2 separate regions of the Homo sapiens genome follow, and region 1 is linked to region 2. The links come from fine-mapping of genetic effects on gene expression. A gene starts in region 2. The other region holds a variant in brackets. All regions are shown on one strand. Distances are from middle to middle.

What was found. PIP is the estimated chance that this variant, and not a neighbour inherited with it, causes the effect.
Region 1: its variant is the best candidate, but not a certain one, in a credible set for the expression of RNF181 in whole blood (INTERVAL, PIP 0.50).

What each region holds. Positions count from the first base shown.
Region 1 is chr2:85,686,197-85,690,409 of GRCh38, reverse strand. It overlaps the pseudogene GPR160P1. Among named protein-coding and RNA genes, the nearest start is that of GNLY, 6.1 kb to the left of the region's middle. RefSeq lists an enhancer at 2,803-3,305. The variant G/TG (reference allele first, on the strand shown) is at 2,494.
Region 2 is chr2:85,593,820-85,598,347 of GRCh38, reverse strand. RNF181 (ring finger protein 181) reads right to left here and starts at 2,603. Exons shown (of 5, transcript NM_016494.4): 1 at 2,499-2,603; 2 at 1,699-1,829; 3 at 1,417-1,526; 4 at 1,170-1,244; 5 at 640-903. The coding sequence starts at 2,584. The coding sequence ends at 844. RefSeq lists a silencer at 2,572-2,711.

The DNA.
Region 1 (4,213 bases), 92 kb before region 2:
AAGGGAACACAGTTCTGATACATACTACAACATGAATGAACCTTGAAATAATTATGCCAAGCGAAGTAAGCCAAACACAAAAGGATAAACATTGTATGATTCCACTTACATAAAATTTATAGAATAAACAAATTCATAGGGACAGAAAGTAGATTAGAGGTTACCCAGGGCTGGAAGGAGTGGGAAATGAAGGATTTAGTGCCCACTGGTTAGACTTTCCATTTGGGATGATGAGAATGGTTTTGGAAATCGATAGTTCCAAATAGATGATTCCACAATCTTGTGAGTATAATTAATGCCACTGGATTGTACATTTAAAATGGTTAAAATGGCTAATTTTGTCATTTATTTTTATTAATATTATTTTTAATTGACAAATCATAATTTTATATATTTATGGAGTACAATGTGATGTTTTGATATATGTATACCACTTGGAATGATTAAATCAAGGTAATTAACATATCTATCACCTCCGTTATCATTTTTTGTGGTAAACGTTTTATGTTATATGTATTTTACCACAATAGAAAAAAATTGTTTTAAAAGGTTGTTCAAAGAAAATGAAAAAAGGAAGAATGAATGAATAAATAAATAAATAAATAAAAGATTGTTTGCAGAAGCTTTTTCATAACAGCCAAAAATTAGACATAACCCAAATGTCCATCAACAGGTCAATGGATGAAGAAATTAAGGTAGAGCCATACAATATTATACATAACTACTTGGCAATAAAAAGGAATGAACTACTAATACAAGCAATAAAATGAATAAATCTTTAAAAAAAAAAAAAAAAAAGGAAAAAGAAGCCAGACACGAAAGACTACATTCTGTATGATTCCATTTGTATGAAGTTCTTGAGCAGCAAAATTCATCTATGGCAAAAGAAATCAGAAAAATGGTAGGAGGTGGGAGGAGGATGTGAGGGTTATTGGGCTGGCACAGGGGTATTTTTTTTAGATAGTGAAAGTGTTCTATATCTTAATTAGCTTGTGAATTGCATGAGTGTGCATCTATCAAAACTCTTCAAACTGGACACTTAAGACTTAAGCATTTTGCTAGATGTAAATTATACCTCAATTTAAAAATTATCCAAAAAATTATTATTATTATTATTTTTGAGAGGGAGATTCCCTCTTGTTGCCCAGGCTGGAGTGCAATGGCATGATCTTGGCTCACCGTAGCCTCCGCCTCCAGTATTCAAGCTATTCTCCTGCCTTGGCCTCATGAGTAGCTGGGATTACAGGCGTGTGCCACCATACCTGGCTAATTTTGTATTTTTAGTAGAAACGGGGTTTCTCCATGTTGGTCAGGCTGGTCTAGAACTCCCGACCTCAGGTGATCCGCCCGCCTCAGCCTCCCAAAGTGCTGGGATTACAGGTGTGAGCCACCACGCCCGAACAAAAAAGATTCTTAAGTTACAATTTTATGGCTCCCAATGAACAATATCAAATACTTCCCCAAAGGATTGTACCCATTTACAACATTGCCAACATTGTATGAGAGTTCCCTGCACTCTCACCAGCATTGAATATTGTCACACTCTTTATTTTGCAAATGTAATGAGTGAAACTAACACCTACTTTTATTTCCATTTCAATGACTACAAATTAAGTTTAATATTTTCCCAGGTATTTGTTTACATTTACATTTATTTTGAAATTGTCTTTTTATGTCCCTTGTCCAATATCTACTGGACTCTACTATGTTTTTCAATTTGTAAGACTTCTTTACTAATAAATACATTAATGTTTTGATATATTTGCTACAAATATTTTGTCACTTCTTGATTGACCTTTAAATTTCCATAAGGTTCTTATGCATAGAAAGTTTTCATTTTCTATAATCAAATATGTATATTTATGACATATTTTCTCAGTTTAGAAAGTTGTGATTGCCTCTTTTTCCCTAGAAAATATTTTTTTTGCTAATTTTTACAGTTAGACTTTTTTTAATGTGACACTTCAATCCTCTGGAATTGATTTTAGGGAGGTATGAGGTGGGATGTATTCTTTTCAAAATGCTATTCCCTTAGTGTAAAGGTATTGATTGTATACTTTCCCCTCCTCTCCATTGATCTGAAATGGTTCTTTTATTGTATATTCAATTATATGTAATAGGATCAAATTCTGACCTATCCATTCTGTCTAATTGACCCAAATATCTTGTGTTCTATTAACACCACATTATCTAATCCTGCAGTTTTCTTGATATTTTCCTTTGATATTCCTTTACTTTTAAATTGTACATTGGGTAATATTTTATTTACTATAATACTTTATATGCTAAAAGTATATATAAGGTATAATATTTATATACTAAATATTAAATATCTACTAAATGCTAAATATAAATTATTTTGACCAATAGTATATCAGATTCTAATTTTCACTTTTAATTTTGTTATAACTAAAAACTAATATGGAAAAAATTCACTTCTTTATAGCCACTCTTTCAGCCATGATCATAGTATAACTTTTTTTTTTTTTTTTT[G/TG]AGACAGGTCTGGCTGTGTTGCCCAGGCTGGAGTGCAGTGGTGTGAGTGGTGTGATCTTGGCTCACTGCAACTTCTGCCTCCCAGGTTCAACTGATTCTCCTGCCTCAGCCTCCAGAGCAGCTGGGATTACAGGCGCCCGCCACCACACCTGGCTAATTTTTGTATTTTTAGTAGAGACTGGTTTTCACCATGTTGGCCAGGCTGGTCTTAAACTCCTGGCCTCAAGTGATCTGCCCACCTCGCCCTCCCGAAGTGCTGGGATTACAGGCGTGGCCACCGCGCCCAGCAGATCATAGTATGACTTTCTATTTTTTCCAAGTCATCTTTTTTCTCTCTCAATAAAGTTTTAGGAAGAGTTTTCCAGTGCAGGGGAGCTGAGCATCAGCCAACCCAGGACCCGGACCGTGATGATTCTGGGTGGCCAGGGAGATGGTGGGGGTCAGCGGGGGGCAGGAGACTTCAGAGGGATGTCCAGCTGGGAGCAGATCCCTCTCCGCTTTCTCCCCAGCTTGCGCAAATGACTCAGAGCCTATTCACGTGACATTTTGATATAACAAAACAAAATGCCAGGGACTCAAAATGAGATAATTAAAGGCAGTAAAACAGAAATAAAATAGGGAGATAATCAGCCAAAAAAGACCTATGGGAGAAAGCAGATGATGGGAAATAAAGTGAAGCAGATTTTTTGGTATGTGTTTCACCAGACTTTCTGAAATTTAAAAAATGATGACCCTTTATTTAGAGAACTGCTCTTCTCAGCACCAGTCACAGCAAACAAGCAGTCCCTAGATGTTAACTGTCTGATTGCACTTGGGAAAATATTATTAAATAGCCTCACCCTAAGAATGAGAAGAAAATACACCTGTGAAATTGTATGGAATATTTTTACATTTCACCAGCATCCATCAATCTCGTACTTTTGGTAAACATTTCCATCATCTCCTATTTCAGAAATTCTGTACTTTCAGGCACTAGGTTTACTAAATACCACATCTGCCTATTTACTCAAATGATGTCCTTTACTTAAAGCCTTTTTGCATTATCCAGTTTTCCTGATAGTTTGTATAGATGATTGCCTGAATTTCTCAAAAAGCAAGCTTCCCTTAAGCGTCAAAATTATTTTTATTTCTTTGCAGTAATTTCAATTTACGTTTCAGTCCTTGCTTACATTTTGGGAGACCCAGCTATCTGCCAAAGCCTGAAGGCACAGAAGGTTTATTCTCATCAATGTCCTTTCTACATCAGCATTCAGGGCTAGTGGCTGTCATTTTTCGTGATGATTTTATGGTTTTTATAACCTCTTTGTTACATGATTTTAGGATAACTTTCTATATGAATGAGACTATCCTATATCTTCTTCCCTTTCATCCCATTCTAGATATACTGTGAGTTCTAAAAAATTACACTTGCCCAAACTCACTGTTTTCTTGGTACCTGGTTGTCATTTGTACCACTTCAAGTAATCATCCTTTTTCTTTGTTTTGTTTTGTTTTGTTTTGTTTTTTATTTGAGACGGAGTCTCGCTCTGTCGCCCAGGCTGGAGTGCAGTGGTGCAATCTCCGCCTCCCGGGTTCACGCCATTCTCCTGCCTCAGCCTCCCGAGTAGCTGGGACTACAGGCGCCCGCCACCACGCCCACCTAATTTTTTGTATTTTTAGTGGAGACAGGGTTTCACCGTGTTAGCCAGGAAGGTCTTGATCTCCTGACCTCGTGATCCTC
Region 2 (4,528 bases):
TTGGTCTGATAATCTCACCCATCCCCCACTCAGAGTCTGGTTTGAACTTTGATTCCTTAGGAGGCATGGGGGGAAGGTGGGGGTGGTACAGAGAGCAACTTTAAAATATTAAAAGTGGCTTTCTCAATGGAGCAAAAAGAAAACCTGTGGGATTACAAAGTTAACTAGACATTGCAGTGGGAGGAGGGTGCAGGCTAGTTTATCAGCTTTTTTTTTTTTTTTTTTTGAGACGGAGTTTTGCTCTTGTTGCCCAGGCTAGAGTGCAATGGCATGATCTCAGCTCACTGCAACTTCTGCCTCCCAGGTTCAAGCAATTCTCCTGCCTCAGCCTCCCAAGTAGCTGGGATTACAGGTGCGTGCCACCATGCCCAGCTAATGTTTGTATTTTTAGTAGAAACGGGGTTTCACCATGTTGGTCAGGAAGGTCTCGAACTCCTGACCTCGTGATCCACCTGTCTTGGCCTCCCAAACTGCTGGCATTACAGACATGAGCCACTGCACCCAGCCTAGTTTATCAGCTTTAAGTAATTAACTGGGTACCAGACCCTGACACATTTTGCCTTCCAACCATGAACACATAGGCCCAAGCCCTGGCTATTGCAGTAATCCAGTTCTTTACCACTGCCATGAGTCCAGATGGGCCAGCAGGGAGGAAAACCGCAGCCTGGTGCCTTCTGCGATTTAGGATCACCTTCCCCAACAGAAGTAGAGACCTGATGGAGGATGCAGAGCCCCTGGCCAGGTCTGTGATCAATACAGCCTCAGGGTGGGTAAAGAAACCTTTAATGAGGATTCAAGGTTAATAAGGAAGACGCAGAGGGCCAGCACTCAGCCCCAACCTCCTCACGTGTACATGGCTCCATGGAGGTTCTCCAGTCGGTGTTGCTGCTGCTGTTTTCGAGCCTGAAGGAAAGAAGGCATGCTGGGCAGGGGCCAAAACTGAAGGCCTATGGGTGAGGGGATGGGCAGCTATTATGGGGCTGGCTCTGTTTTCAGGCCTCTGGCGTCTGCATTGCTGAGGCTCTCACCACAAATCAAAGTCACTAAGAAGACAGCCAGAGCCAGGGATTCTGAGGCCTACCCAGTCCTGCTGAGGTGGGAAGTGATGGCAGCGGGGACAGGACTCAGGGAGCCCATTACGACCCCTCCACTTAAGCATCAGCCCCTACCTTATCTCGTCTGTGCTCCTCATAAGTGTCGTCATCAGTGGGCAGCTCATAGCGGCACAAGGGACAGGAATTTGTCTGAGAAAAGTAGAGTAGTGTTCTAGCCTTGGTCTGATCTTCATAAGCTGATAACCACCCTCCCCTGCTCCCAACTGCCACTCTTCTTCCATCCCCCAGCAGTCCATGAACAGAAAGAAGCTTGAGTACTGGGCCCAGGGCACGGTGAGAGCTAGAAGAAGAGAAGCAGTACCTTGCTTAGCCAGGGCAGAATGCAGCTGGAATGGAAAAGGTGATGGCAAGGCATCTCAATGGCAGTCTCCTCCTCCTCAAATTCCAAAAGACACACGGGGCACTTGAGCTCTTTAGGAAGGAGTGCTGATCAGGAGAGCTGCTACAGGCTCTGCCTCCCAAGCTCCCACTCCTGAAGGACACTTGCCCCCACCTGACCTGGAAAACTGAAGGACCAGACCACAGTCTGGCTTGGGGAAGGGGTGGGTCTGGCCCAAATAGCAGAAAGAATCAGTGTCCTCACCAGCCTGAGAGCCTCTGATGACTGTCCTGGGGAGGTTCTCAACCACAGTCTTGGCAGCTGGTGGAGGCAGGTGGTGGTCCCAATCTACTACCAACCCCAAGTCTTCAAAGTCCATCCTATTGAAAAGTGACCTGGGGAAGGGGATGTAAAGTCAGAACAAAGGAAAACTATGCTTTTTCTTTGTCCCCATAATCCACTGGACATTAATAAACACGCTGCCCAGCTAGTAGGAATAATAGCTACCCTTAGTAGTTAGTAGATGCTCACTAGATAAAAAGCACGATGGGAAATAGTTTACAACTGCTATCAGACCGCCCCAGCACGTAAAGTGTTTATTCCCATTTTACACATGAGGCAACAGATTCAGAGAAGTTACTCAGGCTACGCTGAATAACCTGGTAGAGCCCAGATTCCAAGACCAAGCCAGATTCCAGGTCCAGTAACAGCAGTGCCTGCTGTTACTGATGAATATACCCACTCACAGCACACGGCCCCAACCCCGCCCCCATGCCTCACCTTCTCTGAGACCTCCCAGAGCCTGCTGTCCTTCCGCCCCCACGCCCACCACTCTCCAGCTCCAATCTTTCCCGCAATCCCCTTGCCCCAGGCCGGCCCAACGGACGGCCCAAATTATCGAGATGCTCATCCCCACACCCCTCAGTCTCGCCGCCCGTACTAACACTCCAGATTACTCATCTGTCCTCCCCAGAATCCGCTGCCCCTGGTAATCCGCCTTCTCCAGCCAGCCCCAGCCCAGAAACCTGCTGGTTGGACCCTATCCCCAAGCCCCGCGCACCCACCTTGCGAGCTCCAGCAGCATGTTGGTTCGCGTCTCCTGCTCAGGGTCCGACGGCTCGCAGTCGTGTTCATCGAAATAGGACGCCATGGCTGCCCAGCCTTCTGACACAGCCCTCGGACCCTGCTCGATAGCGGCCTAGCGGCGCTGGCCAATAAACTGACGAGCTGAGAGAGGCTGGCCAATCAGAGTATCCGAGGGACGGGCATAGTGGCTCGTTAAACAGCACGGAAAGCGGAAGTACTAATTCGGCCCCCTCTCATTGGCTTGAACAAGTCAGGTGACCAGAGACTAACGCCAATGATGGAGATCTGGCTGGTGAGGAATCATTTGTTTTGGAGTCGGAGCCAAGACTGAATTCCCGGGGATTTCTGGCGCGATCGCGTCCAAGTGTCTGGTGTGTAAGGCTCTTCAGTCTGCCCTGAAGCTCAGAGGGCTTCGACAGTACAGATGCTAGAGGCCTCTGCGAGCAAAGGCGGCGCTGGCCCAGGGGTTCAGGTTCCTGCGAGCGTTGGCCCATGGCGCTTCCGGATGCGCTGTCCGGATCCCCGCCGGACACTTCTGCCCCCGCGGCCCTCTAGTTGGTTCACCAGTTTGCGTTTGATTCCTGCGCATTTCTTATGTGTTAGGCATAATAATAAAGGGTGGGGCAAGCCTCCCCAACTGAGAGAGATCTCTTTGCCGGAGAACCTGGGGCCTCAACCAGCTCATGGGACTGTTACCTTCAGCCCGTTGCTATCCCTAGCTTCTGTAAAACTGCTGGCTTGTACTAAGACCTTTTCATTCCTGGCTACACATGAATTCCCAGAGGAGAGAATGGGCGCGGAGGAGCTTTAGAAACACCCGTGTCTGATACCTTCGAAGATTCTGATTTAACTGATCTGTGGTGGGGCCTGGGCAATGGCACTTGTATAAATTATGCAGGTGAAGCAGGTTTAAGAACCACTGCACTCAATGATTTGGATGATAGGTACTATTTAGCATCTAGAACTGTTAGTCTGATGTATGTTTTACACGCTCGATCATCCCCTCAATAGACCCAGGAGCTAAGCGTCATTATGCCCTTTTTACCTCAGAAGTGGCTTGCCCAAATTTGCAGTCTGTAAGTGGTGTTGCAGACCAGCTGCAGGGCCAAGTGCTTTCCTCCATCTTTCCCAAGAGAGGAAGACGCTAATGCGCTCAGTAAAACTAACACGCTCTGTAAGGGGTGAAGCTCCACACAACTCAGGCTTATTCTGGTTTCTGTCAGTAGCGCTCACTTTACCCAGCAAGGAACTGCTTATTTTACACACTTGACCCTGAATTCCCCTTGCCACTCACACCTGAGTTTGAACTGCAGCTAAGTAGCCCAGGCAGAGGCTGCCCTGTTTCCACAGTCTTGGTGTGGCTTTATTTCCTTCTTCCATGCCTTTGCCCAATGATCTTTGCTATGGCCCTGAAGGCACTGCCTCCCTGGCCTATATGGCCCTGTAGCTTTGAAAAGCCTGAATTCAGGCTGGACATGGTGGCTCACGCCTGCAATCCCAGCACTAAAGGCAAGAGAATTGCTTGAGCCCAGGAGTTCGAGACCAGCCTCGGCAACATAGACCCCGTCGAAAGAGGGAGGGAGAGAAGACACAGGAGAGACCCCGTCGAAAAAGGAAGGAAGGGAGGGAGGGAGATGGGAATACCAAGGAGTGCTTTAAGGTCCCCATCTCTTGCTGTCACTTCCCCCATCTGCAGTCTGATGTAAAGCTTGAGGTAGATAGAATGTGGAAAGAGAAATTGAGGAGTGGGAAGTGTTCAGAGGGGAAACCATTTATCTGAAGGTGAGAGCCTTATGAAAAATTTTTTGGGCCAGGCGCGGTGGCTCATGCCTGCAATTCTAGCACTTCGGAAGGCCGAGGCAGGTGGATCACCTGAGGTGAAGAGTTCAAGACCAGCTTGGCCAACATGGTGAAACCTTGTCTCTACTAAAAATACAAAAATTAGCCAGGTGTGATGGTGGGCACCTGTAATCCCAGCTACTTGGGAGGCTGAGGCAGGAGAATTGCT